Linked DNA regions of Homo sapiens. The protein of the gene in region 2 interacts with the protein of the main gene of each other region in a pairwise test. Each region holds a gene or a part of one and is shown on either strand. Other genes may lie near its edges.

Evidence for each region.
Region 1: the proteins of CBS (region 2) and UBASH3A interact in binary tests that used the Homo sapiens proteins (3 or more experiments, as listed by UniProt).
Region 3: the proteins of CBS (region 2) and CYTH1 interact in binary tests that used the Homo sapiens proteins (3 or more experiments, as listed by UniProt).
Region 4: the proteins of CBS (region 2) and FXR2 interact in binary tests that used the Homo sapiens proteins (3 or more experiments, as listed by UniProt).

The regions. Positions count from the first base shown.
Region 1 is NC_000021.9:42,413,654-42,421,502, reverse strand, and holds part of UBASH3A (ubiquitin-associated and SH3 domain-containing protein A), read right to left. Parts: exon of another isoform or gene 5,195-7,849; intron 5,062-5,194; coding exon 4,892-5,061; intron 3,103-4,891; coding exon 2,894-3,102; intron 1-2,893. UniProt on the Homo sapiens protein: Interferes with CBL-mediated down-regulation and degradation of receptor-type tyrosine kinases. Promotes accumulation of activated target receptors, such as T-cell receptors, EGFR and PDGFRB, on the cell surface.
Region 2 is NC_000021.9:43,065,826-43,073,674, reverse strand, and holds part of CBS (cystathionine beta-synthase), read left to right. Parts: intron 1-333; 5' UTR 334-409; intron 410-1,473; 5' UTR 1,474-1,481; coding exon 1,482-1,690; intron 1,691-5,059; coding exon 5,060-5,166; intron 5,167-5,270; exon of another isoform or gene 5,271-5,618; coding exon of another isoform or gene 5,619-5,897; exon of another isoform or gene 5,898-7,041; coding exon of another isoform or gene 7,042-7,150; intron 7,151-7,297; coding exon 7,298-7,432; intron 7,433-7,849. UniProt on the Homo sapiens protein: Hydro-lyase catalyzing the first step of the transsulfuration pathway, where the hydroxyl group of L-serine is displaced by L-homocysteine in a beta-replacement reaction to form L-cystathionine, the precursor of L-cysteine.
Region 3 is NC_000017.11:78,673,839-78,681,687, forward strand, and holds the end of CYTH1 (cytohesin-1), read right to left. Parts: intron 7,205-7,849; coding exon 7,133-7,204; intron 6,507-7,132; coding exon 6,352-6,506; coding exon of another isoform or gene 6,348-6,351; exon of another isoform or gene 3,213-6,347; coding exon of another isoform or gene 3,185-3,212; exon of another isoform or gene 2,332-3,184; coding exon 2,253-2,331; 3' UTR 210-2,252; downstream 1-209. UniProt on the Homo sapiens protein: Promotes guanine-nucleotide exchange on ARF1, ARF5 and ARF6. Promotes the activation of ARF factors through replacement of GDP with GTP.
Region 4 is NC_000017.11:7,597,468-7,605,316, reverse strand, and holds part of FXR2 (RNA-binding protein FXR2), read left to right. Parts: intron 1-1,236; coding exon 1,237-1,308; intron 1,309-1,411; coding exon 1,412-1,560; intron 1,561-2,314; coding exon 2,315-2,408; intron 2,409-3,791; coding exon 3,792-3,908; intron 3,909-7,849. UniProt on the Homo sapiens protein: mRNA-binding protein that acts as a regulator of mRNAs translation and/or stability, and which is required for adult hippocampal neurogenesis. Specifically binds to AU-rich elements (AREs) in the 3'-UTR of target mRNAs.

The DNA.
Region 1 (7,849 bases), 650 kb from region 2:
GTGGTGAGGGGAACCCTAGAGAAGCTGTGGAGCATTTTAGGAGAGAATTAAACAAATGAGTGAAATATAAAATGGTTTTAAGACCTCCTGCCTGGAGACAGAGGGATGGCCACGATGGTGTTTTTCCAGGCTCTCTTCCCCAGCCACACAGCTCTGAAGGTGCCAGGAAGCCCAGAACCACAACATAGGGTTTTTCTGTGTATTTCTGCCCTTCTCCTCCCACTCTCATCATTCAGTTGTTCCAACCATCAGTCTTGACACCTGCAAGAGCTCCACCCCAACAGGCACACCCATGAGGCTGAGCAGCTTTTCTCTTTTTTCACCATGTGTACTCTGACCTCTGCCTGCTCTCTCCACTCTCCTAACTGGAACCTGGGAGAAGAGAGTGAAAAAGCTCACAAGAGCCACCTTAACACTTTGCAATGGCTTTATGGTGTGGCAACTTGGCCAGACTGAACGACAGTTCCTAGACTTCCTTTTTAGCACATGTCTGATCAGGGTGGGCTACAAGAGGCATTCTCATGAGAGCTGGAGGATGGAAGGGAGGCAGTAGCCATCCTAAGCATCACACACAGCCTTCCTAGCTATCCCATCAAATGCTAGTCTAGGTGCTGCTGGAAGGAGATTTTACAAATGTGACTAGAACCCCTAATCAGTTGAGCTTAAATTAATCAAAAGCAAGGTTATTCTGAGCAGGTCTGACTTATGCAGTTGGAAGGCATTTTTTTTTAAAAACTTAGGCTTTCCTCACACTCAGAGACTTCAATAGCAGCTGTGTCTGTGACTGCTCTCCCATCACCCGGGTGGTCCTTCCAACTGCCACATGTGGACAACAAGCTTCAGCTTGCCCATGGGTTTTCAGCCTAAGTAGGCTCCTCCCTTCCTGCCTGTCTGCCCTTGCTTAGCTAGCCCCAGTAATTCCATAAGGCAATTCATTGTAGTAAATCAATATAGATGTGTGTATACATATATACCTTTCCATATATATATGTGTGTGATACATGTGTATATAATATAAAATACTATGTATGTATAGTCAGCCCTTTGTATCTGGAGGTTCTGCATTTGTGGATTCAACCAACTGCAGGCCAAAAATATTCAAAAGATTAATCAATTAAAAAATAGCAATACAATTTAAAAAATACAAATAAAAAACAATACCGTATAACAACTATTTGCATAGTATTTATACTGTATTACATATCACAAGTAATCTAGAGATGATTTAAAGGATACAGGGTGATGTGCATAAGTTGCATGTAAATACTACAGCATTTTATATCGGGGACTCGAGAACATGAGGATTTGGGTATCTGTGGGGGTCCGGGAACCAATCCCTTGCAGATAGCAAGGGACAACTGTACATATACTTATATGTATTATATATTGTATGAAAGTGACTGGTTCTGCATCTCTGGTTAAACTTTTACTAAATTTGGTATCAGGAATGGGGTGCTACTCTAACAAACAGTGGATGTTCTTCAACTTCAGATGGGGTTATGTTCCAACAAACCCATCATAAATTGAAAATGCATTTAATGCACCTAACCTACTGAACATCACAGCTTGGCCTAGCTTACCTTAAACACGCTCAGAACACTTACAGTAGCCTATGATAGGGCGGAATAATCTAACACAAAGCCGATTTTATAATCAAGTGTTGAGTATCTCATGTAATTCGTTGAATGTTGTACTGAAAATGTAGCACAGAATGATTGTATGGGCACTTGAAGTACAGTTTCTATTGAACCCATATCACTTTCGTAACATTATGAAATCCTAAGCCAAACCATTGTAAGTTGGAAACCTTCTGAACTTAAAATGTGGAAACAACTTTGGGACTTGGCAGCGAGTAGAGGCTAAGAGACTTTTGAGTAGCACAGCAGAGAAAGCCCAAATCACCATGAACAGACTGCTAGAGGAAATAGGGATGCTAAAGGTGAATCCTCCGGGGAGAACTCAGAAAGGAATGTGACAGGTGTTCCAGGAAATCGGAGCAAGGAGGATCCTTCCCATGTGTGCCAGAGAGTTTAATGAAATTGTCCATGGAGAGCAGGACTTGTAAGCGATGATGTTGGTCACATAGCTAAGGCTATTTCCAAACAAAGTGTTAAGTGTATCACCTGGTTTCTTCATGTTATTTATAGTGAAGCGGGAGAGGAAAGAGATAAATTGAGGGAAGAACATCGAACAAAAAAGAACCAGTATCTGATGATTCTGAAAATCCTTAGCCTCACCAGATGATGCTAAAAGGTGCTAAAATTAAGAGATTCTTCAGCTGATGAAGAAGCAACTCACCAGGAGCCCTACAGCTTCAAGGAAATCACTCCCACCAACAACTGTGTATGCTCAGGCGAGGGTGTGAAGCCTCAGTGGGGAGCCCAGCCCTGGCAGGCACCTTGATTACAGCCTTGAGACCCCGAGCTGAGGACCCAGTGAAGCTGGACTCTGACTCTCAACCCATAAATACCATAAGATAATAATTGCACTTTGTTTTAGTGGTAATTTATTATACAGTCATAGAAAACTAATAATACGACCTAGGACTTTACATTTCATACACGGAGCAGAAGAATAAATAAACCCAAGCTCAGGACCTCTGAGTATAATTTATTATGTGTGTGATAAAGAAGTAGTATTTTGCAGTAATTTGGGGATTACCATCTCAAATTACTCTAATGCAGAGTAATTCATTCTTTTTTGAATGTTATCATCAGAAAACCAGGGACGAACCAAGATGTTTACTATATACCTGCAGGAATAATTTTGTCAGCATACAGAATGCAATTTTACCAATAATGGAATGGTCTAGAAGCACACTGTTGGCAGGTGGGCACTCTCACACAGTAACTCAGAGAGAGATGACGGGGCTGCAGCCAGAGGCAGCACTCACCTGTGCTTCACCCACGTGTCAGACTCACTGGCTCGATCCGTGTAGTTTTCCGGCAGGAAGCCCCGGCAGCCCGTCCGCTGTGAGATCCCAATCACCCAGCCCTCGCTGGCTTCGTCCTGCTGCGTGGGGTCCACAAAGATGTAGTCACCAGGACTTAGCGTCAGCTCATCCACGTTCTGGGGTTTGTACTGGAATAGGGCTCTCAGGGTCTAGAAAAGAGGCAAAGGGGTTTCACGTCTCGAGCAAAGATTTACATTGGAAAATGGCAGCAATAGGAGGCCTATCACCTGCCACCTCCTGCTTTCTGCCCCTCCAATGTGTTCTGTGTCTCCAAGACTCCATCCAAAGCTTTGTCTGGCAATATATAGCACAGAATGTAATGAAACGCAGCATAGAATTCTTTGGATAGATTTAGAAATACATTTTGGGGCCAGGCGCGGTGGCTCACGCCTGTAATCCCAGCACTTTGGAAGGCCGAGGTGGGTGGATCACAAGGTCAGGAGTTTGAGACCAGCCTGGCCAATATGGTGAAACCCCGTCTCTACTGAAAATACAAAAATTAGCTGGACATGGTGGCGGGTGCCTGTAGTCCCAGCTACTTGGGAAGCTTGAGGCAGGAGAATCACTTGAACCTGGGAGGCGAAGGTTGAAGTGGGCGCAGATCACTCCACTGCATTCTACCCTGGGTGACAGGGTGAGACTCCCTCTCAAAAAAAAAAAAAAAAAAAAAAGAAAAAAAGAAAAAAAAAAGAGATACATTTTGGGATCTATCCATCATCCATCCATCTAGGTACTTTTTTGTCTACAAAAGATCTGAAGGCATAAGCAGACTTTCACATCCGCCTTCCTCGGTGTGAGGTTATTGACACCTCATACGATACAGAACATGGTGGATTCATTCACACGTGCTCTCTGGGTCTGAAAGGAGCATCACACACTTCGTTTCTAAACCCATCGATTCATGGGCAGGAAGTCCCAGAATGAGGTTTCACTCAAATCATTCTTTAAAGTGAATTGTGCTCACTTTGGCAGCACATATAACTAAAATTGGAATGCTGCAGAGAAGATTAGCATGGCCCCTACATTTAAAAAATAAATAAATAAAAAAGAATTAATAAGCAAAACATGTATTCATAGATCTTTACAATAGTCCTTTCCTTTCTGTCTTTTTTTTTTTTTTTTTTTTTTTTGCCAGTCTCGCTCTGTTGCCCAGGCTGGAGTGCAACGGTACGATCTCTGCTCACTGCAACCTCCACCTCCCAGGTTCAAGTGATTCTTCTGCCTCAGCCTCCCGAGTAGCTGGGATTACAGGTTCGTGCCATCACGCCCGGCTAATTTTCTGTATTTTTAGTAGAGACAGCGTTTTGCCCTGTTGCCCAGGCTGGTCTCGAACACCTGACCTGAAGTGATCCACCTGCCTCAGCCTCCCAAAGTGCTGGGATTATAGGTGTGAGCCACCACACCCAGCTTCCTTTTCTAATATTGGAAATGCTTCTATTTTGTTGTCTGTGCATCTCTAACTCACATATAAAAGAATGCTGGTTGTAAATTGCACAAGAAAGAGAATGGCTTTAGAGAAGCAATAGAAATTTTCCTTGCTACTAACATATCTCCCTTGGAGGGCTCCAGGGGGTACATGCTGTCAGGTGAGTGGCCGTTCACTCATCTGCTTCTTTTTTTGAGACGTCTCGCTCTGTAGCCCAGGCTGGAGTGCAGTGATGCTACCTCCACTCGCTGCAAGCTCCGCCTCCCGGGTTCACTCCATTCTCCTGCCTCAGCCTCCTGAGTAGCTGGGACTACAGGTGCCCGCCGCCGTGCCTGGCTAATTTTTTGTATTTTTAGTAGAGACGAGGTTTCACCATGTTAGCCAGGATGGTCTCCATCTCCTGACCTCATGATCCGCCGCCTCGGCCTCCCAAAGTGCTGGGATTACAGGCGTGAGCCACCGAGCCCAGCCCATTCATCTGCTTCTTATGAGCCCCTGCTCAGCTCTCTCACCTGGTAGTGCACAAAGCGCATGTCTCGGGAGTAGAGTGCTGCGGTCCACTGGCAGCTGTGGCCCAGGGGGATGGCTCTGGCCAGCTGCTCCAGCGTCCTCTGGTGGTGGGGGTAGAACTTGTGGGCCAAGGTCAGATGCAGCTGTTTGGTGCAAGGCTTCACGGAGCAGTCTGTGAAATCAGGGAAACACAGAGGGTGCCAGGACACCGTTACCTAAATGTCTCCTTCCTCCGACCTCCATGCTTCCTCCACAAGGCAAGGGCTCTCAGAACTCAGAGCTCATTTGGCCCGCTCAGAACTCACATCATAAAGGAGATGGCTGGATCCCTGTAGATTTTTCCAGGAAGTAGGAAAGAGGACGATATGGAGATGTGGGTTCAGGGTCTCGGGGGCCTATCGGTTTGCAGGCTAGCTGCCCGAATGCACGATTCAGATGCACAGAGTAAACGGCTCCTCCATTCCCCGGGGTGTGCACGTTACCCAGTGGCCTGGACTTGCAGGCCCGAGCTCCAGTTCAACGGCTTTTTGTTTAATCGTAGAGTTTCAAGAAGAAAACTCTTTAGGCAACAAAACTATAAAACACACAGTGTCTTTAAGGTTCACCTTGTTTTGGTGAAGCAGGAAGTCCTGGGAGTGGTTGAGCCTCAGGTCTTTTTGGGTGTCCTCTGCCCCTGTGGCCCTAGCCCTCCCTGGTCCTGCCAGGGGCTCTCAGGTCAGTCTGAGCAGAGCAGCTGGCATCACCAAAGCAGCCAGGATCTGATTTCAGTTGAGCCACAAAGTATTTTATGTCCTAGGGAGGCGGTCTGTGTCTTGACGGGAACAACACAAACTTTGGTGTCAGATAGACCTAGTTTTAGGCTGCACTTTGCCCCCTTTTGCAGGGTGACCTTGACTGAGCCTCTGGGCCTGCCCAATTTCTGCTTCAGCAGCATCTGCTGGAGGACGGCAGCGCCTGCTCGCCAAGGCTGCAGTGGGAAATCAGCCTCCTAACCTAAAGTTTCCTGCTAGAGACGCCGTGTCGGTGCACAGACGTACCCTGCCCCCACTCCACGGCAGGGCACTTACAAACAGGATCTGCTCACCCCCTAAAAAAGGTCAAGGTTGATGCAAGCCTTTCCCTGGAGCCCCGAAGTTGGGGCTCACTGCTGTCTCCCACGTGAGAGGTGAGCCTTTAGAGGCAAATGGGAAGCTCCCACGGTCTCTAGGAAAGCTGGGGCACTGAGGCTGCACAGCCCAGAGCAGCATGAGTGTGTAGGTGGTGGGGAGCAGCATGAGTGTGTAGGTGGTGGGGAAATTCCTTTCCTGACTTTTGTTTTTAGCAGTCGGGGAGGACCGCCTTGCCATGCGAGTGAGTGTGGCCTGGGAAAGACCCACTGCAGGTTGCTGACGTCAGAGTGAGTCACACCGACTTCTGAACGGGTCCTTGCGTTTCCTTCTCTCTGCGGACCTGTGCCTATGGGCACGTTTCACTGGGGAGGACCAACGCGGGCAAGGGGGCCTCATGCATTTGCCCCAAGAGGGACCTCGGCCACTTCAGAGCAGTGACTGGTCACTCATCACTGAGAGAGTCCCCTCCACCCCCTCGGTGTCAGGCTGAGAGCATGGGCCATGGAAGGGCAGGACACAGCCTGCTTAGGGTCGGGGCGTAGATGTGAGGTCAACGCTGGCTCCCACAGGAAGTGGGGCTGCCCAGCATGAACCCAGGCAGCATGGAGCAGGACAGAGGTGGGTTCAGGTCCCTGCTCCGCCAGCCTGGTTAGGGGACTAGATTGGTTTCAAACAACAGAAATGTATTGCCTCCCATTTCTGGAGACTAGAGGTTCAAAATCAAGGTGTTGGCAGGGCTGTGCTCTCCCCGAAAGCTCCTGGGAAGGGTCCTTCCTGGCTTCTTCCAGTTTCCGGTGGCCCCAGGCGTCCCTTGGCTTGTGGCTACATCACTCCAGTCTCTGCCTCAGTCGGCACATGGCTTCTCTGTGTCTCTGTGCGGCCTCTACCCTTACGGGAACCCACCCTAATGCAGTGTGACCTCCTCCCAACCAATCGCATCTGCACAGGCCCTATTCCCAAGTGAGGTCACATTCCCAAGTTCCTGGTGGACAAACATTTTTAGGGGACACCGCTCTACACACCACAGGACCTTGGGCAGGCCCTTCACCCTTTGCAGCCTCAGTCTTCCTGTTTTTAAGATGCTGCCAATGAGGTTCACTGGGGGAGGGCCTGGGTGTGAAAGAGCCATCATTTGATAAAGGATACTAATCCACAAAGACCGGGGGCGACTTTCTAATTATTCAGCAGATTCGATCTCCAGACTCACAAGCTGCCATCCAAGTGGAAGCCCAGGATTCAGGGATGGATTTACAGGCCAGGATCTGTGCTTCATACATGTCTGAGCACAGACAGACACGCTCCCAGAGAGAGAAAGTGGGGAGCCCTCCCACCAAGGCACTGCGGCCTCGTCAGATTTTAGAGTCGGCAAATCTCAGCAATACTGAGTGCCTTCTGTGTCCCGGGAACTATGGCAGGATGGGCCACAGACTCAGGCAACATTGTTCTTGAAGAGTGAGAGCCCTCATTGTTTTGTAGAGAAAGAAAAAGAGACAGAGAGAGTGGACATGACTTGATTAAGGTCATGCCACTCATCAGGGACACAGAAAAAAATCACATCTTCTGACGTCAAGTCCACAATCCTTTCCACTAAACCCCAATGGTAGCCTTGGTCTCCAGGCCAGGGCTGGTGTTTGGAGAGAAGGGAATTTTGATGATTCTGAATATGAGTCTAAATAATCTTTCCCTGGAGAGGCCAAGGAGAGAGCACTAAGCTCATACTGAAAATACAGAAATAAGTCACGTAGGACTTGTGTGTCTCCCACTCAAGGCTGGGGTGGGGAGGCCCTGACTCCCTGTGTGCACCAGCCTCCAACCCCGTCACAGTCACCCACTCAGGCTTGATGCTTGGCA
Region 2 (7,849 bases):
TCCCCCTCCCGGGTTCAAGCGATTCTCCTGCCTCAGCTTCCCGAGTAGCTGGGACTACAGGTGTGCGCCACCATGCTTGGCTAATTTTTGTAGTTTTAGTAGAAACGGGGTTTCACCATGTTGGCCAGGATGGTCTCGATCTCTTGACCTCATGATCCGCCCGCCTCGGCCTCCCAAAGTGCTGGGATTACAGGCGTGAGCCACCGCGCCCGGCCTATTTGTTACAATTAATGAGCCAATTCCACGATCACATAACCATTGTTGACATTAACCAAAGTCCGCGCTTGAGTCAGATTTGCAGAGTTTTCTCCTCACTGCCCTTTTCTATTCCAGGATCCCATGACAGATTCTGTTGTCACGTCTCCTTACAGAGTTTGAGCGGTGCTGAACTGTCAGCACCATCTGTCCGGTGAGTGACGGCTGTGGACTTAGTCTTCCTGTTGAATGTGGGGAATCAAAGGAGGGTGAAGCGGGGCTGAGCCCAGTCCTGGGCCCTCTGAAGAAGGCAAGGTGGGAGGTGGTCGTGGGTTCCTTGTCCCCCCAGAGGAGGGGCAGCAGATGGGACCTCGCCTGGCTTTCTTTTTGCTTTCTTCTTTTTTTTTTCTGTCTCATCTATTTCAGGTGCGTGTGTGTGTTTTTAATCCTGGGTAAAATACACGTAACACTGATCACTGTAACCATTTCTAAGTGTGAGGCAACCACCGTGACTATCTCCACCCAGAACGTTTTCATCATCCCCAGCACAACCTCTGCACCCATTAAACAATCACCCTCCCTTCCCCACTCACCTCAGCCGCTGGCCGCTTCTATTCTACTTTCTATCTCTATGAATTTGCCAGACATAGAGGGGCGTTCGAGAGTCCCAGGTGCCTCATCGTGGAAGTGGAATCACACAGTATTTGTCCTTTTGTGTCTGGCTCATTTCGCTTGGCATAATGTCCTGAAGGTTCGTCCGTGTTGTAGCGTGTGCCAGAATTCATTTCTCTTAGGGCTGAGTAATATTCTAGTGTGTGTATGAGCCTACTGTGTGTGTTCATCCGTCTGCGGATACGTGGGCTGCCTCCACGTTTTGACTTGTGAATAGTGCAGCAGTGAGCATGGGTGTGCAAGCATCTGTTTTGTTGTTGTTGTTTTATTTTTTAAATAGAGATGGGGCTGGAGCCCAGGCTGGTCTTGACCTCGTGGACTCAAGTGGTCCTCCTGCCTCAGCCTCCCGAAGTGCTGGGATGAGAGGCGTGAGCCACCGCACCCGGCCCAAGCAACTGTCTGCTTCCATTTTTTTTGGTATATGCCTATAGGAGAGAAATGGCCAAGCGGCTGCCCACAGGGCTGGTGCCTGTGTTTTTGTGCAGTTCTTCCTGGGCTTCTCTGAGGGAGCAGAGCACGCCTCCCAGAGGGGGCCGGGTCAGCAGGGTTCGCTGGAACCCCACAGCATCCGAGCCTGAACCGACGCCTCTCTCCTTGCTTTGCCAGGTCCCAGCATGCCTTCTGAGACCCCCCAGGCAGAAGTGGGGCCCACAGGCTGCCCCCACCGCTCAGGGCCACACTCGGCGAAGGGGAGCCTGGAGAAGGGGTCCCCAGAGGATAAGGAAGCCAAGGAGCCCCTGTGGATCCGGCCCGATGCTCCGAGCAGGTGCACCTGGCAGCTGGGCCGGCCTGCCTCCGAGTCCCCACATCACCACACTGCCCCGTAAGTCCTGCTTTTGATCACAAGAGGGCTGATCCATAACCTGGAGGGCAGGAGTTTGTTACCTGGACACCACACAGCCAGGAGGACATGAGGTGTAACCCCCTGTAGTCACTCTGGATTGAGGAGCTGGGGGTGGGGCCATGCCGTGTAGATGAGGCTCTGAGAGGCCAAGGCCTCCTTACGCTGCAGCCCAGCGCCTAGGCCAGTGCCTGGCAAGACAGTGGATGCTCAGCAAGTAGTTCCAGAATAAATAAATAAATGTGCCCAGGTCACATGCTTTGCCCGGTCTGTGGCTGCGTGTGCACATTCACTGGAGGTGAGGGACCAGGATCCTGCCTGCGCTCTCTTATTTATTTATTTTTTATTTTTTTGAGACACGAGCTGGAGTGCAGTGGTGCAATCATGGCTTACTGCAGCCTCAATCTCCCCCAGTTAAGGGATCCTCCCACCTCAGCCTCCCAAGTAGCTGGGACTATGGGTGCCCACCATCACACCCAGCTGATTTTTGTATTTTTAGGAGATGGGGTTTCACCCAGGCTGGTCTTGAATGCCTAGGTTCAAGTGATCCGCCTGCCTTGGCCTCCCACAAGTGTTGGGATTACAGGTGTGAGCCACCGCGCCCGGCCCAGCCTGCACTTTTCCGTTAACTCTAGGTCATGAAGACTTCCCGTAGGCATTACATATTTTTCCATAAGGGCTGTTTTTCTGGTGGCACAGACTGTTCGGTGAAGAAGCCATCATTTTGTAAGCCCTCTACGGGGTAGATAGATGTTTGCAGTTACCTCATTTTACATAACTGCAATAGAAGATACGACACATTCATTTAGCCAACAAGTCTTTCCTCAGCGCCATGTGCATTTCGTGCCCTGCTCAAGGCGCAGAAGATCTATCAGTGGAAAAGACAAATCAACAAAAATCCCTACCCCAGCATGAAACTGAAATCAAGCTCACTAAGCCTTAGGATTATCTTTATTTCCTTAGTGTAATCTTGGAGGAGAACAAATAGATCAAAGAATGTGCTTCTTAGATGTTTGATTCCTTTTTTTTTTTTTTTTTTTTTGAGACAGAGTCTCGCTGTCACCCAGGCTGGAGTGCAGTGGCGCGATCTCAGCTCACTGCAACTTCTGCCTCCCGGGAAGCGATTCTCCTACCTCAGCCTCCCTAGTAGCTGGGATTACAGGCATGTGCCAGCACGCCCGGTGGATTTTTATGCTTTTAATAGAGATGGGGTTTCACCATGTTGTCCAGGCTGGTCTTGAACTCCTGACCTCAGTTGATCCACTCGCCTCGGCCTCCCAAAGTGCTGGGATTATGATTCCTATTTTGTGTCCACCACTACCAGCGTTTATGGTTGTTGATTTACAGTTCAGAATGGGTGGGGGTGGCTGGGTGTACTCTCAGTGCAGCAATAGAAAGAAAGAAGTGACAGTGGACAAACCCAGAAGGTCTGAGTGTCAAACATACTCAGTGCTGGGAGCTCAGGAGGCCAAGCAGATGTGTGGGCAGCCAGGAGGATGGGCTCTTGCTGCCAAGACAAACCCAAGAGAGCAGTGGGTGAGAGGCCCGGTGAGGTCGGGAGTGGCTGCTGGAGGGTGGAGTGGGCAGGGAAGACAGGCCCGATTCCTGAGGGCTCCGTGAGCTCCTAACTCTAGGGCATGAGAAGGAGACGATGCCCTCCAGGTTGTAAATGGCGTTGCACCTGCACCTCACATACTGGCCTCATTCATCCTCCGAAGACACCCCCATCCTGAGACGCAGAGCCGACGCCGCTTGTCTCCAGTCGGAGGGCCCCTGAGAATAGTGGCGTTGCGGGGAGGTGCTGCAGAGGTGGGTCAGGAGTTGGAGGTTCATTCTAGGACAGTGGCGTGTCCTCCCAGGAGCCTCTTGGGCTGTGGAAGTGGGAGTCCTTGAGATAAGGGGCTCCAGGGCTATCCCTGCAAGTCACATCCTTTTTCTTGCTAAGCGCTCTGGGCCTGGCCCTGATCACCTCTGCAAACTTCTCAGGTAACTTCACAGCCACCGAGGCCCAGTGCTGAGTCAGCACACCTGCTGCAGGGAGGCGGGACTCTTCCCGCCTGGCTGGCCAGATGCCCGAACTGAATTAATGAACTAATCCCCGGCGCTGTCACCCTGGGGCTTGGCTTTCCACCTGGCCCTGGCTCTCTACACCTGCCAAGCCTGGTTCCCTTCTGCCGAGAACTGCTTCTGAGGGAACCTCCCTGGCCCCTGTACAGTTTGGGGACCTGGCAGGACTGCCTTCTGCTCCCCGGGAAGGGTGCGATTGGATTCCAGCTGCTCTTGTTGGCGCCTGTTTTGGCCTTCAGGGTAGCTCTCCCTGCAAATGTGGCACTCCCTCCATGGCACAGGACCTCTGGGAGCTGGGTTCACCCCAGGTCTAAGGGTCGCCTCCTGGGGGGCAGGACCCAAGGACCCTGGCTGTTCAGCAGGTGACTGTGCTGAAGAGGGGGCCCAGGGTTAGCCACGGGGTGTCATCGGAGCTGCAAGGCCCAGGGAGGGGTTGCGGGTCTGGAGACCGCTGTAAGCCATGCGTGTTCCCAGATGAGTATGTGGTGAGCTTGGTGCAGATAGATAGGGGGTGTCATCAGCATCTCCCTGGGGGAGGATGGCAGGGGCATGAGGGCCATTTAGGAAACCACCTGGACCAGGGTTTGAGGGTTTACACAGCCAGATGCTGCAGGGCAGGGCATCACGAGCCTGGCCGACAGCGCCTCTGCCGGGGCTCTGAGTCTGCCACGTGCCTGACATTTTCTGTGCAGGGCTAGACATCCCGCCTGCGCTTTGCAGCCATTGTCCCTGGTCTAAGGAGTCTCTGCCCTGACACTTTTTTGCTTCCTATGGTCACATGCTGAGAGATGAAAGGAAATGTCATCTCCAGTAAAGCCTTTCTGAAAAGGTGGACCTAAACCTTTGTTTTGGAGTCAGTATTTGCTTATTTTAACTTTTTTATTTGGAAATAATTTACTACTCACAATAAGTGGCAAAAATAATAGATCCTTTGTACCCTTCTCCCAGCTTCCCACTAACAACATCTGCCACGACTGTAGGTTCATTTTCAAACCTGGGAAGCTGGCATTGGTGCAAATAAACCACAGGCATGATTTGCTTTTTATAGATTTGTATGTCTAAGCATGTGTGTGTATGTGTGTTTCAGGCGTGTGTGTGGGATGTGTGTTAGGTGTATCTGTGTACAGATTTGTGTAACCACCACCCAGATAAAGCCAGTTCTTTTTTTTTTTTTTTTTTTTTTTTTCCAGTTCTTCGAGTGTTGATTTGTGTAAGACAATGTCTGCCAGGGCTGGTACTATTTTTTTTTTTTTTCCTGAATAATTGTGGACTCCTCTGTTTCAGGGCAAAATCTCCAAAAATCTTGCCAGATATTCTGAAGAAAATCGGGGACACCCCTATGGTCAGAATCAACAAGATTGGGAAGAAGTTCGGCCTGAAGTGTGAGCTCTGTGAGTGCCCTGGCTTTGGAGAGGGGCTTCCTCCATCTACACTGGGCTCCGTGGGCCTGGGGGGTCCTGGGGGGTCCTGGGATGGATCCCTTAGGCAAGGCCCTGGGATCAGAAAACTCGCTGGTTAATGAGTGGCCAAGAACATATCAGCTTAAGTTTGGGAAAAACACACAACAGGGCATTGTGTCAGAGGGTGACCAAAGTGACTCCCCAGCAGATGGACCAGGGAACGAACAGGTGACCTTTGAACTGAGGCCGGAGTGGAAGCAGCGAGGGTGTGAAGGGCCGGGTGAGGGTCAAAGGCAGAAGCAAGCAGGTGGGGAGGGTTAGCGTCATGCCTGCTAAGGAGCAGTGGACGGGTCCTAGCACGTGCTGTGAGCCACCCGCTGTCCAGGGAGCGGTTACCTCTGTCTTGCCAGCTTCGTGGGGACAGATAGTTCAGCTCATCATTTATGAGACAGAGAATGGGAATTTGGAGGGTCTGTGGCTGGCCTCGTCCTGGGTGCGCAGGGGGTCACCTGAGGTGTGGTCTGAGGCCTCCGGGGAAGGGCATTTCTTTGCAGGACGCAGTTTCCAGGCTCAAGAACGTGGAGGGAATTCCTAAGGGTCGCTCTTCACCAAGAGCGCAGAGCCCTGGTAGACCTCAGCATCGTCACAGAGAAAGCTGTGGGTGCAGAGGCCTTGGGGACAAGGCGGGGACGGAATTTCGTATTTCAGATGACCAAGGCCAAGTGAGTTCGGAGGGAGGCAGGAAGGGTGCCGCGGAGAACCCCGCGACAGGGCCAGATGGAGGGGGTGGAGTTCGAGTGGGAAGGAGAGGGAACCAGTAACATGGCTTGGGACTTTTTCATCCTGAGATGCTCTAATGTCCCAGCCGGGGGACCTGTGAGAGCTGGGGCAGGCGCTGGGGGAAGGAAGTCAGGGGTCGGTGCGTTGGGAACCGATCGCCGATTCACAGGAGGGGCCTCGTGGGAGCCTGGCCCTCCTCTGCCCCCCTCTAGGGAAGGAGATCTCGGAGCTGCAGCAGAGCAGCCCCCTTCACAGAGACCCCCAAGGCAGCAGGGCCGGCTCTGTGCTCATTTGTCAGACAATAGGGACCCTTAACTCGTACGCAGCACGCGTGGCTGGCTCACTGTGCTCCGTACAGGATGACGTCTAAACTTGGTGGTTGCCCTTGAAGTAGGTTTTGGAATGCCCGTTTTACAGACAGACACACCGAGGGTCAGGTTGGTCACGTGGCTTGCCGGAGGCCACCAGCTCTGATTTCTGCTTCGGAGCTGGCCCCCAGGCGCTAGTGAGAATGATCTAACTGAGGGTTTCACAGTATGGGACCCAGAGGGGTCCGAGAATGCAGGCCTGTAGAGGGCCAGACCCCGAGAGTCCTCCCCACCACACACAGCGCCTCGTCCTGGTTCTAGGGGCAACACCTGTCTGGTGGTTGCTTTCAGAAATTTTGAGGTGCTGCAGGCTGGTCCCAGGTCCCTCAAATCACATTTCATGCAGCCCAGTCTCTCGCTCTTAAAAACTAAATATTTTTAAGAGCTGGAGAGGGAGAGAGGACTTGCAGTAAGGAAGGAAGTGCAAGTGAAGGCCTTGGCCTTGTGCGGGAACCGCGCAGGGAGCCCTTCCCCGGGCAGGTGACGCCCCACAGGGGGAGGAGGACAATGGGAGGCTGTAGGGAGAGTATGCGAGTCCCCATCCGATGGGGAAGCCAGTGCTGTGGCTTCAGGACATCAAGCTGCTTTGGCAGGGGCCGCTGGGTATGGCTGGGCATAGGGGCGTAGGGGACCCAAATCCAGGCGCCTGCCCGCCACAAGCCCAGCTCGTGGGTGGGGGGACGGGGTTTTCTGCGGCGCCCCCCAGTGAGGGCTGCTTATGCCTCTCTGGTTCCCACAGAGTTGCTCAGCGCCCTGCAGGACCGGTAGGATGGGCTGCAGGGGGAGAAGCTCTGATAGGCTAGTGCCCAGGTGCAGGTGTAGGGGAGGTGAGTGGAGAGGTGGCAATTTTTCAGAACCCACAGACCCCCAAGCCCGTCCCCCACCCTGGGGTGTATCAGGTAATGGGGGGGTGAGCAGGAATCAATGGGGGGGTGGTCAGGGGGTCCCCTCTGTGATTCATCTCTGCCTCCCAGTGGCCAAGTGTGAGTTCTTCAACGCGGGCGGGAGCGTGAAGGACCGCATCAGCCTGCGGATGATTGAGGATGCTGAGCGCGACGGGACGCTGAAGCCCGGGGACACGATTATCGAGCCGACATCCGGGAACACCGGTGGGTGCCAGGCCCAGAGGGGGTGGCCAGGGCTGGCTGTCCCCTACCCATGCCGAGCCTGCCGGGACCCGGGGGGGATGGCTGAGCTGCAGCCGCATGTGCTGGCCCGCCTGGCCGCCTGCTCCCTGGCATCTTGCACCCGCTGCCGGCCTGTGTCCCAACCTAGCTTCCTTTGACCAGCATTCGGGGCCAGTGCCGATGCTCTCGGGGCGATGGCACCTGGCAGTGCCTGGCACACAAGACGAGCACCCGGAGTCTGCTCTTCCTGTGCCTGTGTACCCGGCTGGGCCTGGAGGAACCAGATCTCCTGTCCTGCGCCGCTGCCTCCTCCTCCTTGACGTGTACCTTTTATTTCTGCCTCTGGCAGCCTCTCTCCCCCTGCACTTGAAGGCAGAAGCAGCCATGTTGGGCAATTTT
Region 3 (7,849 bases), on a different chromosome or scaffold from region 2:
AAGTGGGGGCGGTGCAAAGACTAAGTTACTTATCTTTTCTGACTCTGCTCTTCTTAACAGAAGACAGAACCCTCCTCCCACTTTCAAGGTGTTACAACTGAACTCAAGGTGCAGCTGGAGTAACACCCTCCTGCACAAGTGTCCGGTCAGCACCCCTTTCCCACCTCGAGGGCCCCGCCTGAGCCCAGAGACACCGCGAACAACAAAGATGGCTTGGGCAGAGTTGGAGTTTATTTGCTGCAGTTCCTTGGCGCTAGTTTACAAGGCAAAAACAAACAAACAAAAACAATTAGAATAATTATTTCTTAAAAACCCTGTCAACAACTTTCAGTCATTTCTTTATATTTTTGTATTTTGACAAAACTTCTTTTAAACAAATACAAAATAATCTAAAAGGAGAAAAACTATACATAGATTATTTACACCTCTGATAAATAGACTAATACTGACCCAGGTGCCTCTCTGTCTAGGAAACACTTGAGAACCAGGCCAGGGCCCGGGCCAGCTGGACAGGCTCCAGCACCGGCCCAAACACGCCCAGACCTCGGCAGGCACCACCTGGTTCTCCCACCCAGAAAGTTCAGGTTTCCAGCCTGGACCCTCTTCTGTCACCCTCACAAGCTCTGGCACAAAAGTGCCTAAAGCCATTCCCTCCAGGTAGGATCTACACAAAGTGGCGGGGAGGGAGGTGACAGACTGTCCCCCTCTATTCCTCCCACCACTCCTCTGCAAAAGCTATTTCCAGAGATGCTCGCCAACCCTAAAGGATCAGAGGAGCCGTGGCGACGCGGCCCTGTGAAAACCCGCAGCTCCTCCACCTGCCTCCTCAGGGCTGCGCCCTGCACCGCCCTGGTCCAGGGTCCTGTGGAGGGGCGGGGCGAGACGGCCAGACAGCCAGCCACCTGCTCTGCCTGGACTGGCATGCTGGCCCTGGCGGAGTGGCAGGAGCTGCCCTGAGAGTCCCTGAGAGAACGGCAGGAAAATGCTGCGTGTCACGGCTCCCTTCATACTGTAATGAGGAGGGGCAGGGCCAGCTCACACAGCGCCTGCAGGGGAAGACAGAGATGCGAGAGGCAGCCCGGCCACCCCCCTCACTCCAGTGCACCCCACGGAGCAGATAAAGGCCCATCTTCCCCTCTAGGGGGCCCACCACAAAATGCATCCAGAGTAGTCCAGTTAGGGCTGGTTTTGAGGCAGAAAAAGCTGAAGCCCTACGGGGATCGGGGAAGTCCTACTCCTTCCTCTAGAACGAGGACTGGAGTCTGGGGAAGAGGAAGAAAACCCAAAATGAAACAGGTTATCCGGAACCTCTGTCCCGATAACCTTCCTCACAGTTTTGGTTATTAGGTATTTAGCTCAAGGAAAATGCTGACTTTCTACTTTAAAGCCCAACAAGAACTTGGATTCTGAAGGAGGAAAATAACGTAAGCGTCCAGTCAGCTCTCTCCTCTCCTCGGCGCTCCGCAGGCACTTGGGATGGAAAAGCATCCGCGGGAGATGCCGGACTGCACGCTGCTGCCGACTGCGACCCCGGCCAGGGCAGGCCCCCGACTCTGACTGTGCCGTCTGAGGCTCCACTGGGCCTCTGCCCTCTGCGTCCTCGACCTCACCTGTCCATCTCGCCCAGACAAGCACCAGGCAGCGAGCTCCCACAGCACAGGAGAGGCAGGCCAGGCCCTGCCGCGGGCCCAGGCTGATGCCCCTTGGCCGCAGCCCCAGGTGCTCTTCTCCAGGGAGAAGCTCCCCAGCGCAGCCAGGGCAGAATGCACCTGAACAGCCCTACGTTCTCTCTTAAAAAAAAAAAAATAGATCTTTATAGTATGTGGCTTCTCTTCCTTTCCACCTTTTTCTCTTAACATATAATAATATATGGACACATGTATTTATGGTGCAGGGTTTGAAGGCTTCTTCACGGGGACAACCAAGAGGTAAACAGTTGGCTCTGAGCTCTGCTACCAGAACACTGAGCAGAGAAACTGGCCAGGAGGCTGCCCTGCCGACAAGAGCTCTGCCCTGTGAGAGAGGAAGGCTCTGGAGCCCATGCTGGACAGGTGGCCGGTCCTCTCTTCCCCAGTGATAACTGCCCACCCTTCTCCCACTTAAAAAAAATAGCAAAAGCTGAAGCTAGTCTCTAGGAATCCAGGGCGGGGCCTGGCAGAGGACGCTCTGCTCGGCAGCAGTGCATCCATGGAGGTGCGGGAGAAGAGCAGGAGCTCCAAGGCCCCCGCAGACCAACGCCCTTGGCTGCACGCTCAGTGTCGCTTCGTGGAGGAGACCTTCTTTTTCCGTGCTGCGAGCATTTCGTAGAAAGGGTCCCTGCTGATGGCTGCTCTGGAGCACAGAAAAGGGAGAAAACAGAGACGTGAGGGACAGAATCAGAAGAAACACACCCAGGCAGGGGATTCTCAGGGGCCCCTCGTGCCCCAGAACACCTGTCCCACCCCACCATCACTGCAAAGGCCAAGTTAGCGTCCTCCACCCTTGCTGTGTCCACACAGTGACCTAAGGTGACACACTTCGAAAGAGACACAGGAACACGTGACAAGAAAATTTTGGGGTTTTTACCTGTTTCAACATAATAATCAATTCACATTTAGGAACAGAATCATACCACATTCTTACAGCTATATTCCAATTCAGAGAAAAAGACTGGTGCTTGAGTTTCCATGATGACATCTGACTTTGCTTTGCAGCAGCGAGTGCCACGTAATCAAGCCGTGTCACATGCAGTCCTCTGGCACGGGGTGTGTGATAGCTGGCATGGTAATGCAGTGGGGCCTTCCAAGCCCCCCACGTGCACCTGCTCAGTAACTAAGGCTCCATGACTCTGCAGGCGGCACTGCCCAGCACGATGCTGCTGGTGGGGCACCATGGACAGACCGGCTGGACCTGGCTGGGTCTCCGGTGCACAGGGAGGGGGCCCGAGCTCATGCTTGTGCTACAGCCTCAAAGACAGCAGCGCAGGCCGCGCCGCGGGCTGGAGCACCTGCAGTGGACTGGCAACACCACAACCCTATGTCTGCCATTCTCGACTTTCAAGCAACTTATGGTCTAAAAGTCCTGACACTTAATTTCTTTCCAGGGAAGCTGTATCCTAAGTGATGATTTGTTCCAGAGCTCGGGCACAAGCCTCCTGACTGCAGGCAGGGCACTCACCCCTGCTGAACGGTGGCACCAGCAGCTGCTATGGCTCTCCTGGGCTGACCTGGAACCTATTCACAAGAGACAGTGTGTCCATGAGAAAATGCTTCCGCAGCTCCCCGGGGAATGCTAGGAACTGAAGAGCACTAGAAACATGTCCCGATGGGATCTCACTGGGAAGCGGTCTGACCACCTGAAGTGCTTTCACGAGGGAATCTGGCGGCCGGGACACCTGCTTTCATGTTTGGAGGTGTTGGGGTGAATCTCCCTTGGCTTCCTGGGTAGGCCAACCCTTTCGGGTAAGCTGGGGGGTTCTGCAGAGAGGTGCGTGTGGCACTGCCCTGTGTGCAGAGGCAGAGTGTCAGGCGATGAGGGGGGCTGGGCTGCGGTCGGACACCAGGCCCCAGGCCCGGCCCTGCCTGGCCCTGCCTGCTGCTTCTCAACTCCCGCTTCCTCACATGCAAGCTGGAGATGCCCCACCTCCACCTCCCTGGGTTCCGGAGAGTCAAAAAGAGATCCCATATTCAAAGAGCACATCTCAGCGCCTAGCCGACACACTCGATGGCAGCCGCTGTTACCGCTGACACGCAGTTCTACTGCTGTACCTCTGGGTACAGCGTGAAGAAAGTCCCAGCATTAGAGAACACACCTGATTCTACAGAACCGAATGCTGGGACCACCCACACGCAGGGGCACTAGAACTGAGGGTGCTGGGAACTCCAGGAAAAGCACTTCGTGAGAGGAAAACACGTCCTGAACTTGACCTCGAAAGCCTTTCTGGCAATACTGGGGAGGAGGCATCCACCAGCCAGATCATCTTCCTGCTCCTGTTGTCACCAATGTTTCCACTGGGAGGAGTATCTAGGGCCAAGGACAGCTGAGGCTGCACGGTGGTTACCAGTGCAGCTGCATGAGTCACACTGCTCAGGTTTGAGGACCAGCTCCACCTCTGTGGGGTTTTGGACAACTTACTCAACTTTGCTGTGCCTCAGTGTCCCTCATCTGTGAAATGGGGATAATCCTAATGGTCCCACCTCGCACTGGGTGCAAGAAGGTTTGAGGACAGTGTGCCTGCAGAGTGCCAAAGGGGGTGTCTGCAGATCCCGAGGCTGAGGCCAGCCCGCTCCGGGACAGAGCAGAGGAGTCCAGCAAGCCCACAGGAGAACTTGGCACTCACGCTCATGAAAGGATTGAATGATTCTAAATGTGACTTTGAAAAATGCTTAGTTTTTCTGACTATAGAAGTAAAAACCATATGAAAGACACATGTACAAAACCAGCCAAAACTGTTTTGAAAGACCAGTGAGGGAGGACAGGGAACTCGCCAGCCAGCACAGTCAAAGGACACCACGATGCCACAGGGGGAGGGGCGGGCGGCGCTCACGCTGGGAGGCGCGGTGGAGCAACAGGTGCATGAAGCGTGGTGGGGGAGCTGGGTACACTCTAAGGAGAGCATATGAAGTCAGTGGGGGCGATGCCAATGAATCCATAAATGGTGTCCGGACCATCAGCTATTCATTCATGAGAACAAACTTAAACCCTTACTTCAAATCTTATATAAAAAATACATTTCATAATGATTCAATAAATTTTTTTTTCAGTATGTTAAAAAAAAGGATACCGGTCCCCCACAACACTGCTGTTTTCTTCCCCAGAACACAGGGCTGGTGCCATTACTGGTAGGGGACTCTGAAAACACCGTGGCACCGCGTCTGCTCAATGGAGGGTGGGCTGGCCCCCGCTCAGGGCCACACTTCCCATGATGGCTGTCATGCCAGGGAAGCTGCCAAACCCCATGCCCACTACACAATCTCATTTAATCCTCAAAAGAGCCCCATGAGGCAGAAATGACCTCTATCACACAGAAGAGGTAGGTTACCCACCTACCAGGCACTGCGCTCAGAGAGACAGAGCGAGGAGTCTCAGCGCAGCGTGACCTGGCGCCAAATCCATCCTCTCTCCAGCTGGTTCCTGTCTGTTTTCATTGCATGAATTTTCAGATTACTTTTGAGAGGATAAATCATCTATTCCTTTCCCTCCATCATCACATCATCTCCATCTTCAGTCAGTTTTAAGGTATTTAGCTTGGGCCAAAACCTACACTGGTCTGAGTAGAAATACCAAAAGATAAAACAAAGGCTAGAGGATATTGCACACCCTCGGGAACGGGGCTGTAGCCTGGGTGGGAGAAAGCCCGTCACACAGTACACAGAGGACTTACAGGGACCTTCGCAGTCACCTGTGGGCACATTCTCCCTGTCTTCCAGGTGAAGTCACACAGGCAGCTGAGGAGTCTTTCTCAGGAAAACAGCTAGGTGAACTCTCATGGATGAAGCACCAGGAGGGAGAGGGCAAGGCTGTGCTCTTAGGAGAAAGGATCACTGAGAGAAGGCAAAGTCAGAATGCTCACTGCTGACCCTCGCACAGGGACTGGAGGGAGGAGAAAGCATCACTGAGAGAAGGCAAAGTCAGAATGCTCACTGCTGACCCTCGCACAGGGACTGGAGGGAGAGCCAGGCAGACCAAGTCCCAGGGAAGAACATTAAGCAAGAGAAGCCAACTGACTTTAGAAAGCCATGTTTCCAGATACTTGTCACATGAGGAAATTTCCAGCCCCGTGATAGACCTTACATGGCGTGGCCCAGTGGAGCCAACAGAGCCGAGAGGTAGGAGTCAGAGGCCTGGACTTGGGAGCTCCACTTCTTAGCTGTGGAACCCTGAGGAAGCTTCTCCCTCCTCCCGGACCTTGGATCACGGTATGTGACTTCCAGCAAATTTCTTAACCTCTATGGGCCTCAGTTTCCTCATCTGTAGCTAGGAAAATGGTGTCTCACAGGATTCACAAATTACAGAACATGACTACTATCTCCTCTGAGCTGTCACTATGAGAATGAGAGCGGCTTCGTCAGACACAGAAAGACCAGTTGAGCAGATGGCATCTGTGTGGGTAGCTCACTCGCCTCTTCCTATTTTGGGTCTATGAGGACACGTGGGGAACCCAGATGGGACGTGCTCTCTTACATATGCTATAATAGCCAAGAATCCAAAGGCCTCCTGGGAAGCCGTCAGCTGGGAACCAGGACGAAGCTTCCCTAAGAACTTGGAGCACAGAAGAGATGCGGGCGGCATGTTTAACCACTAAGATGATCAACACCTGGTGAGGTGAGGGCTGCACCAGGCGCGCACTGCCCTTTCTCAGCAGTCACTTACTTAATGCACTTAATCCACTCCTCCTTCTCCTCGGGCGTCGGAGCTGAGATCCGGTAAACAGTGTGGTTCCCCTCCACCACCCGCCCGTCAGCCTCGGTCTTGCAGGCCTTGATAACTTGGTCTTTATTGTCGGGGATATAAAGCTCAAAGCAGTTCTGAGAATCAAAACAGAGAGGGAGAGAGTGGAGCAAAGGAAGCTGTTAACTGAGAAACATGCTGATTTCTTTCCCCAAAACCCCTTTCTTCTGACCTTCACAAAATACAAGGAATACATATTTTCCTGTGGAAAAGTGAAGCCTAGAAGCGGAATTCTAGAGACTGTAAATTGTATAGAAGTCAGTCTCGTTTGCAAACACACCGGCCTGATATAAGCTGGCCCCACTTGCAATGTACGTAAAATGCGGAGAGAACTGCAGGTGACTCACGACTTTAACTTCAAGCCAGTAACATCCTGACAGCCCAAAACAAAGGAAAACTAAACGGGAGGTGTCCCAAGGGTATAAACTACATAGCCCACTCCTGCGTGCTTGCCGCTGCCATTGCAGGAGGGGCAACTTCTACACCCCATGTGACATTCACTAAGTGAAACGATAAAGCAGACAGACGGCACAGGAAGAAGTGATTTCGAGTCTCATCTTTGGCTTGAACAATATAATAAAAAATTAGACTAAATAAAAGCCTGATCACGCTTTTCAGTTTTTTGGTTTTGAGTTTTTTAAAAAAAATCTTTGAAATGCCCATCCCCTTTCTCCCCTCAAAATATCTCAGCAAAAATACTCACTGGTTTTTTGGAGTCCTCCACTTCCCGGATACTCAGATTCTCTAAAGGGATGATTCCACGGGGCTCCTTATCCTACAGAACAGTTGAAGAGAGGAAGTTTAAGATCACAGTTTAAGGACACACACTGTCAGATTCCTCGCCGGTGACTCAGCCGAACTTTCCTGCTTTCTCCCAGGACATGAAGTTCATAAATCAGCCTGAGGGAACTCCTTACATTCTAAACAAGAATAACACCAAAAATGTCTGAGGATTGTCAATATAACTGCTAAGTCCTCCGCGAGTAGAAAGACCAGAAGATTCAACAGACACCGTGAGAGTGTGGCCGGCAGTGACCCGGGCACGGTCCTCAAGCAGGGAGTGTGCGGGCCCCTTTCCCTCTTCCCTTTGCCTGGCTCTCCCACTCACCTCTGAAGCCTCAGTTCTGGGGCAACAACTCCAGGAAGCCTTTCCTAGTTTCACCCTAGCGCCCCGATGCCTGGGACTGCAGCTGTGGGTCTGACCATTAACCACTCACTGCCTCTGTCCATCGCCCCACCGCCAGACAGTACAATCCTCAGAGACACTGCCATCCTGACAACTCCACCTGGATTTCCAAAGGCACCTTGACTCCTGTCCAGAACAGAGCTGCACCCGCCAACTAGTCCCATCTCATCTACAGAGGGCACGGCACCGCAGACACTTCCAGCACACGCCTGACGGCAGTTTCACAGTCCCCTG
Region 4 (7,849 bases), on a different chromosome or scaffold from region 2:
AGCTAACTGCAACCTCCGCCTCTTGGGTTCAAGCAATTCTTCCACCTCAGCCTCCCAAGTAGCTGGGATTACAAGCACCTGCCATCATGCTCGGGTAATTTTTGCATTTTTGTAAAGACATGGTTTCACCATGTTGGCCAGGCTAGTCTTGAATTTCTGACTTCAGGTGATCCACCCGCCTCAGCTTCCCAAAGTGCTGGGATTACAGGCATGAGCCACCATGCCCTGCCGTCCTCTGATTTTAATTAGTTCCTTCCTCTGGTTTCTTGTATCCTTGGTTTAAGATACATCCCAGGCTGGATGCAGTGGCTCACACCTGAAATCCCAGCACTTTGAGAGGTCGAGTGGGGCAGATCACCTGAGGTCAGGAGTTCAAGACCAGCCTGGCCAACATGATGAAACCCCATCTCTACTAAAAATACAAAAAATTAGCTGGGCGTGGTGGCGGGCGCCTATAATCCCAGCTACTTGGGAGGCTGAGGCAGGAGAATCGCTTGAACCCAGGAAGTGGAGGTTGCAGTGAGCTGAGATTGTGCCATTGCACTCCAGCCTGAGCACCAAGAGCGAAACTCTGTCTCAAAAAAAAAAAAAAAAAGATGCATCCCAAATACCTTTTTTTTCTTTTTGAGATGAAGTCTCACTCTGTTGCCCAAGCTGGAGTGCAGTGGCGCGGTCTCAGCTCACTGCAACCTCCACCTCCTGGTTCAAGTGATTCTCCTGCCTCAGCCTCCTGTGTAGCTTGGAGTACAGGCATGTGGCACCACACCCGGCTAATTTTTGTATTTTTAGTAGAGGTGGGGTTTTACCATGTTGGCCAGGCTGGTCTTGAACTCCTGACTTCAGGTGATCAGCCCACCTCAGCCAAAGTCCTGGGATTATGGGCATAAGCCACCGCGCTTGGCCTCTTTTTTTTTCGTGGAAGTGGGGTCTCACTGTGTTGCCCAGATCGTTCTTGAACTCCTGAGCTCAAGAGATCCTCCCACCTTGGCCTTCCAAAGTGCTGGGATTATAAGCTTGAGCCACTGTGCCCAGCAGCCCCAAATATCTTAATGGTTGTTCTATTGTTTATGTTGCCCAAGCTGGTCTTGAACTCCTGGGCATAAGCAGTCCTTTTGCCTCAGCCTCCCAAAGCGCTGAGATTACAGGTGTGAGCCCCACCATGCCCGGCCTCCTCATCCCTTTCTTGATGCTTTTGGGTGGTCTTCAATATCTCTTTGATTCTCTACTTTTCTTTAGGTTTATTCTCGAGCCAATGAACAGGAACCTTGTGGCTGGTGGCTGGCCCGGGTGCGGATGATGAAGGGAGATGTGAGTGACTGGGAATGCCTTTGGAGAACTACTGAAACAAATATGTTATTCATAGAAAGTTGCTCAGGTCATCCACAACTTCTCCTTTTTTACCATGTGCCAGTTCTATGTCATTGAATATGCTGCCTGTGATGCCACCTACAATGAAATTGTTACCCTGGAGCGACTTCGGCCAGTTAATCCCAATCCCCTTGCAACCAAAGGCAGCTTCTTCAAGGTTACCATGGCTGTGCCCGAGGATCTGAGAGAAGCGTGAGTGTTAAGGATGGTGGGAATGAGGGCCCTCTTTACAGCCCTAATCTCTGGCTTTATTTCTCCCAGGCATCACTCCCACTTTGCAGTTTTCTCTGTTGTTCCCCTGGCCCTCTACTAGAGCCCTTCTTGCTAAGAAGACACTTAGTTTCTTTATTTTCCCATCCTTGTTCTTTAACTGTGGTCCCTCTTCTTTTCTTTTCCTTTCTTTCTTTTTTTTTTTTTTTTGGAGACAGAGTTTTGCTCTTGTTGCCCAGGCTGGAGTGCAGTGGCACAATCTCGGCTCACCGCAACCTCCACCTCCTAGGTTCAGGCGATTCTCCTGCCTCAGCCTCCCGAGTAGCTGGGATTACAGGCATGCACCACCACACCCGGCTAATTTTGTATTTTTAGTAGAGACAGGGTTTCTCCATGTTGGTCAGGCTGGTCTCAAACTCCTGACCTCAAGTGATCCGCCTGCCTCAGCCTCCCAAAGTGCTGGGATTACAGGCGTGAGCCACCGCACCCGGCCCAGTCCCTTTTCTTTTCTTATTTACTCAGCCCTGCTTCTCTGAATTTTTTTTTTTTTTTTTAATAGAGACAGGGTCTCACTATGTTGCCCATGCTAGTCTTGAACTCCTGACTTCAAGTGATCATCCTGCCCTAGCCTCCCAAAGTGCTAGGATTACAGGTGCAAACCACCATGTCCAGCCTCCCCCGAACTCTTCACTGTACTCTCTGCATTCTGCCCGCTGAGTACTTTTTTCCTCTGCAGCTGCTCCAATGAAAACGTCCATAAAGAGTTCAAGAAAGCCCTGGGAGCCAACTGCATCTTTCTCAACATCACAAACAGTGAGCTCTTCATTCTGGTGAGTTTATTCTGCCTGAATTTCACATAAGCCTTTTGAACATTTTTTCTTTTTCCCTTTTTAACCCTTTTGCAGAAAGAGAAGGGCTTAAATGTGCTTATATTTATTTGTCAAGAGGACTTTATTGCTCCTGACTCCTACAGGCCCAGGTAGCCCTACCTTTTTTTTTTCTTTTTTTTGAGACGAAGTCTCACTCTTGTCACCCAGGCTGGAGAACAATGGCACGATCTCGGCTCACTGCAACCTCCACCTCCCGGGTTCAAGCAATTCTCCTGCCTCAGCCTCCTGAGTAGCTGGGATTACAGGTGTGCGTCACCACGCCGGCTAATTTTTTTTTTTTTGAGATGGAATCTCACTCTGTCGCCCAGGCTGGAGTGCAGTGGCGCGATCTCGGCTCACTGCAACCTCCACCTCCCAGATTGAAGCGATTCTCCTGCCTCAGCCTCCCGAGTAGCTGGGATTACAGGCGCCTGCCATTGCGCCTGGCTAATTTTTTTTTGTGTTTTTAGTAGAGACAGGGTTTCACCATGTTGGCCAGGCTGGTCCTGAACTGCTGATCTCCTGATCCACCCGCCTCGGCCTCCCAAAGTGCTGGGATTACAGACGTGAGCCACCGCGCCCGACATGCCCGGCTAATTTTTGTATTTTTAGTAGAAACAGGGTTTCACCATATTGGTCAGGCTGGTCTTGAACTCCTGACGTCGTGATCCGCCCGCCTTGGCCTCCCAAAGTGCTGGGATCACAGGCGTGAGCCACCACGCCCGGCCTCTGACCCTTTTTTTTTAAACCTGATAATCATGTTGCCATCTGGGTTAGAGACCCTCTCTTGATATTTGGACTTTCAGAAATAGAGTATGTAGCTCTCACCTTATGCTTGCTCCTTGCTTTCTCTCTAAACCATTTTCCTTCAGTACCCTGATAGTCAGCCTTTGTGGGACTGACAATGAGTCTCCTCCTTCCTAGCTTCATTTCTTTTTTTTTTGAAAACAGAGTATTGTTCTGTCACCAGGCTAGAGTGCAGTGGCGCAGTCTCGGCTCACTGCAACCTCCGACTCCCGGGTTCAAGCGATTCTCCTGCCTCAGCCTCTGGAGTAGCTGGGATTATAGGCATGTGCCACCACGCCCAGCTAATTTTTGTATTTTTAGTAAAGACAGGGTTTCACCACGTTGGCCAGGATGGTCTCGATCTCATGACCTCGTGATCCGCCTGCCTTGGCCTCCCAAAGTCCTGGGATTGCAGGCATGAGCCACCGCGCCCGGTCTCCTAGCTTCATTTCTTAACCCTTTTCCCGGGACTTAGGCATCCTGATTTCTAGTCCCTGGCTCTCCCTTAGTGTTTATTCCAAGCCAGTTTTAATGACTTTCCCACTGGTTTCCTCCCAGTCAACCACAGAAGCCCCTGTGAAGCGAGCATCTCTGCTGGGTGATATGCATTTCCGAAGCCTGCGCACCAAACTGCTACTTATGTCCCGCAATGAAGAAGCTACCAAGCACCTAGAGGTAACTTTTAGCTCCTTTTCCTTCTGCTGAAGGGTATTGTCTTCCTCCCTTCCTACCCTGTCCTCCATCCATGATCTTGTGTTTACAGAACAAAGACTAAGGCTTTTTCTGGGCAATTAAACCTGGGTCAGCTATTTTATCTCAGACTCCTCCAGATGGCAGAGCTCTATCATGGTATAGTGCAATTATTTTCAAATTTCTTTTAGCCAATTTTTTTTTTTTTTTTTTGGGAGACAGAGTCTCGCTGTGTCGCCTAGGCTGGAGTGCAATGACACGATCTCGGCTCACTGCAACCCCTGCCTCCTGTGTTTAAGCGATTCTCATGCCTCAGCCTTCTGAGTAGCTGGGATTACAGGCGTGCGCCACCACACCCGGCTAAGTTTTGTATTATTAGTAAGATGGGGTTTTGCCATGTTGCCCAAGCTGGCCTCGAACTCCTGGCCTCATGTGATCCACCCGCCTCAGCCTCCCAAAGTGCTGGGATTACAGGCGTGAGCCACCACACCTGGCTGAATGGTTTTTTTTGAGACGGAGTCTCACTTTGTCACCCAGGCTGTAGTGTAATGGTATAGTCTCAGCTGACTGCAACATCCACCTTCTGGGTTCAAGCGATTCTCCCGCCTCAGCCTCCTGAGTAGCTGGGACTACAGGCTTGTGCCACCACACCCAGCTCATTTTTGTATTTTTAGTATTGATGGGGTTTCACCATGTTGACCAGGCTGGTCTCAAACTCCTGACCTCATGATCCACCTGCCTCGGCCTCCCAAAGTGCTGGGATTACAGACATGAGCCGCTGCGCCCGGCCTTGGTCTTGAACTTCTAGGCTCAAGAGATCCATCTGCCTGTACTTTGCAAAGTGCTAGGATTACAGGTGTGAGCCACCACATGCAGCCTAGACTAGAATATTTATTTTTTAGGGTGGGCGCGGTGGCTCACGCCTTTAATCGCAGCACTTTAGCACTTTGGGAGGCCGAGGCAGGCAGATCAATCCGAGGTTGGGAGTCGAGACTGGTGAAACCCCATCTTTACTAAGAAGACAAAAATCAGCTGGGCGTGGTGGCACATGCCTGTAATTTCAGCTACTCGAGAGACTGAGGCAGGAGAATCGCTTGAACCTGGGAAGTGGAGGTTGCAGTGAGCCAAGATTGCGCCATTGCACTTCAGCCTGGGTGACAAGAGTGAAACTCTGTCTCAAAGAAAAAAAGGATATGACTGGGCGCGGTGGCCCACGTCTGTAATCCCAGCACTTTGGGAGGCTGAGGCGGGCAGATCACCTGAGGTCGGGAGTTCAAGACCAGCCTGGCCAACATGGGTGAAACCCCGTCTCTACTAAAACTACAAAAATTAGCCAGGCGTGGTGGCAGGCGCCTGTTGTCCCAGCTACTCGGGAGGCTGAGGCAGGAGAATCGCTTGAACCTGGGAGGCGGAGGTTGCAGTGAGCCGAGATCACACCATTGTACTCCAGCCTGGGCAACAAGAGTGAAACTCCATCTCAAAGAAAAAAAGGATATTTCTTGTTTTTTTGTTTGTTTTTTGAGATAGCGTCTCTGTCGCCCAGGCTAGAGCGCAGTGGCGCTATCTTGGCTTACTGCAACCTCCACCTCCCAGATTGAAGCGATTCTCCTGCCTCAGCCTCCCAAGTAGCTGGGATTACAGGTGTGTGCCATCACACCTGGCTAATTTTTGTCTTTTTTAGTAGAGATGGGGTTTCACCATGTTGGCCAGGCTGATCTCAAACTATGGACCTCAGGTGATCCGCCCACCTCGACCTCCCAAAATGTTGGGATTACAGGTGTCAGCCACCACGCCTGGCCTGACTAGAGTATTTCTGTGAGATCTTTTTGAATTCTGACATCGTATAATTGTCAGATTCCCTTTCGTTGGTATTATACTATTCTAAGTGAATAGGGTGTGTGTGTTTGAATACCATTTCCATTTATCAAGGGAATTGATCTTTTTGGGAGGCTTTTTTCTGTGCCTGTGCAATTTCTGGGTCATGATAATCTTTGACTTCTTCAGGGATCCTGCTCAGGGCACTGGCAGGTAAAAATTCACCATTACCTTCAGATGATACAAACTTTATTTTTTGTTTTTGTTTTTTGTTTTGAGATGGAGTCTCAGTCTGTTATCCAGGCTGGAGTGTATGTAGTGGTGCGATCTCAGCTCACTGCAGTCTCTACCCCCCGAGCTCAAGTGATCCTCTCACCTCAGCCTTTGGGTGGGTGGGATTACAGGTGCATGCCACCATACCTGGCTATTTTTTTTTTTTTTTTGGAGACAGTTTCCCTCTGTCACCCAGGCTGGAGTGCAATGGCACAATCTCCGCTCCCTGCAACCTCTCGCTCCTGGGTTCAAGCGATTCTTGTGCCTCGGCCTCCCAGGTAGCTGGGATAATAGGCACGCGCCCCCACGTCTGGATAATTTTTGCTTTTTTAGTGTTTCACCATGTTGCCCAGGCTGGTTTTGAACTCCCGACCGCAGGTGATCCACCTGCCTTGGCCTCCCAAAGTACTGGGATTACAGGCATGAGCCACTATACCTGGCCCTAATTTCAGTATTTTTAGTAGAGACGGAGTTTCACCATGTTGGCTAGGCTGGTCGCGAACCCCTGGCCTCAAGGGATCCACTTGCCTTGGCCTCCCAAAGTGCTGGGATTATAGACATGACCCATTGCACCCGGCCTAATTTTTGTTGTTGTTTTTTAATTTTTTGAGACGGAGTCTCATTCTGTCGTCCAGGCTGGAGTGCAGTAGTGCGATCTCAGCTCACTGCAGCTTGTGTAGTTAGCGCAGAGTGAGCAAAGGGAGACCGATACAAAATTCGGTCAGAGAGTAGATCATGTAAGACATGTACGGTAGGCTGAGGAGGGGGGATTTTATTGTGCGTATACTGAGAAGCCATTGAGTTAACAGTGCCTTCTGGTTTTTTGTTTTGTTTTGTTTTGTTTTGTTTTTGAGACGGAGTCTCGCTCTGTCACCCAGGCTGGAGTGCATTGGCGTGATCTCGGCTCACTGCAAGCTCCACCTCCCAAGTTCACGCCATTCTCCTGCCTCAGCCTCACGAGAAGCTGGGACTACAGGCGCCTGCCACCACGCCCGGCTGATTTTTTTGTATTTTTTTTTAGTAGAGATGGGGTTTCACCGTGTTAGCCAGGATGGTCTTGATCTCCTGACCTCGTGATCCACCCACCTCGGCCTCCCAAAGTGCTGGGATTACAGGCGAGAGCCACTGTGCCCGGCCGAAAGTGCCTTCTGTTTTAAACTCCTGTTTCAATGACAGATGGAAAGGGGGGCAAGAATGGAAGCAGGAACAGAGCACAGTAGTCCAGGTGAGAAACTTGAACTGGAGTGCTAAAGGAAGAGAGAGAGAGTAGTTTTATGTAGGATAAATTTTACGAGTAAAACCAGTAGGACTGACAGGCTCTGTGATACTGAGAGATACATATTTGGTCTCCTGACCAGGCTCCTGGCATTCAACTTCTAAAATCCTTGGAATCTCCAGTGATGTGTGTTTTTGTGTGCTGATGAGTTGATTCATGGCTAGCCCCTCTAGGTGGCTTCATGATTAGAGGGTTGGAACTTTCAGCCTCACCCCCACCAACTTCCTGGGAGGGGAATGGGGCCAAAGGTTAAGGCAATCACTGAGGATCAGTGATTTAATCAGTCATGCCTAGTAGTGAAGCCTCTAAAAACCGGAAAGGGGCCGGGTGCAGCGGCTCACGCCTGCAATCCCAGCACTTTGGGAAGCCGAGGCAGGTGGATTGCCTGAGGTTAGGAGTTTGAGACCAGTCTGGCCAGCATGGTGAAACCCCTTCTCTACTAAAAATACAAAAAAAGGGAGGCAGAAGTTGCAGTGAGCAGAGATCATGCCACTGCACTCTAGCCTGGGTGACAGACCCCATCTCAAAAAAAAGAAAAAAAAAAAAGAAAACCCAGCTGTTC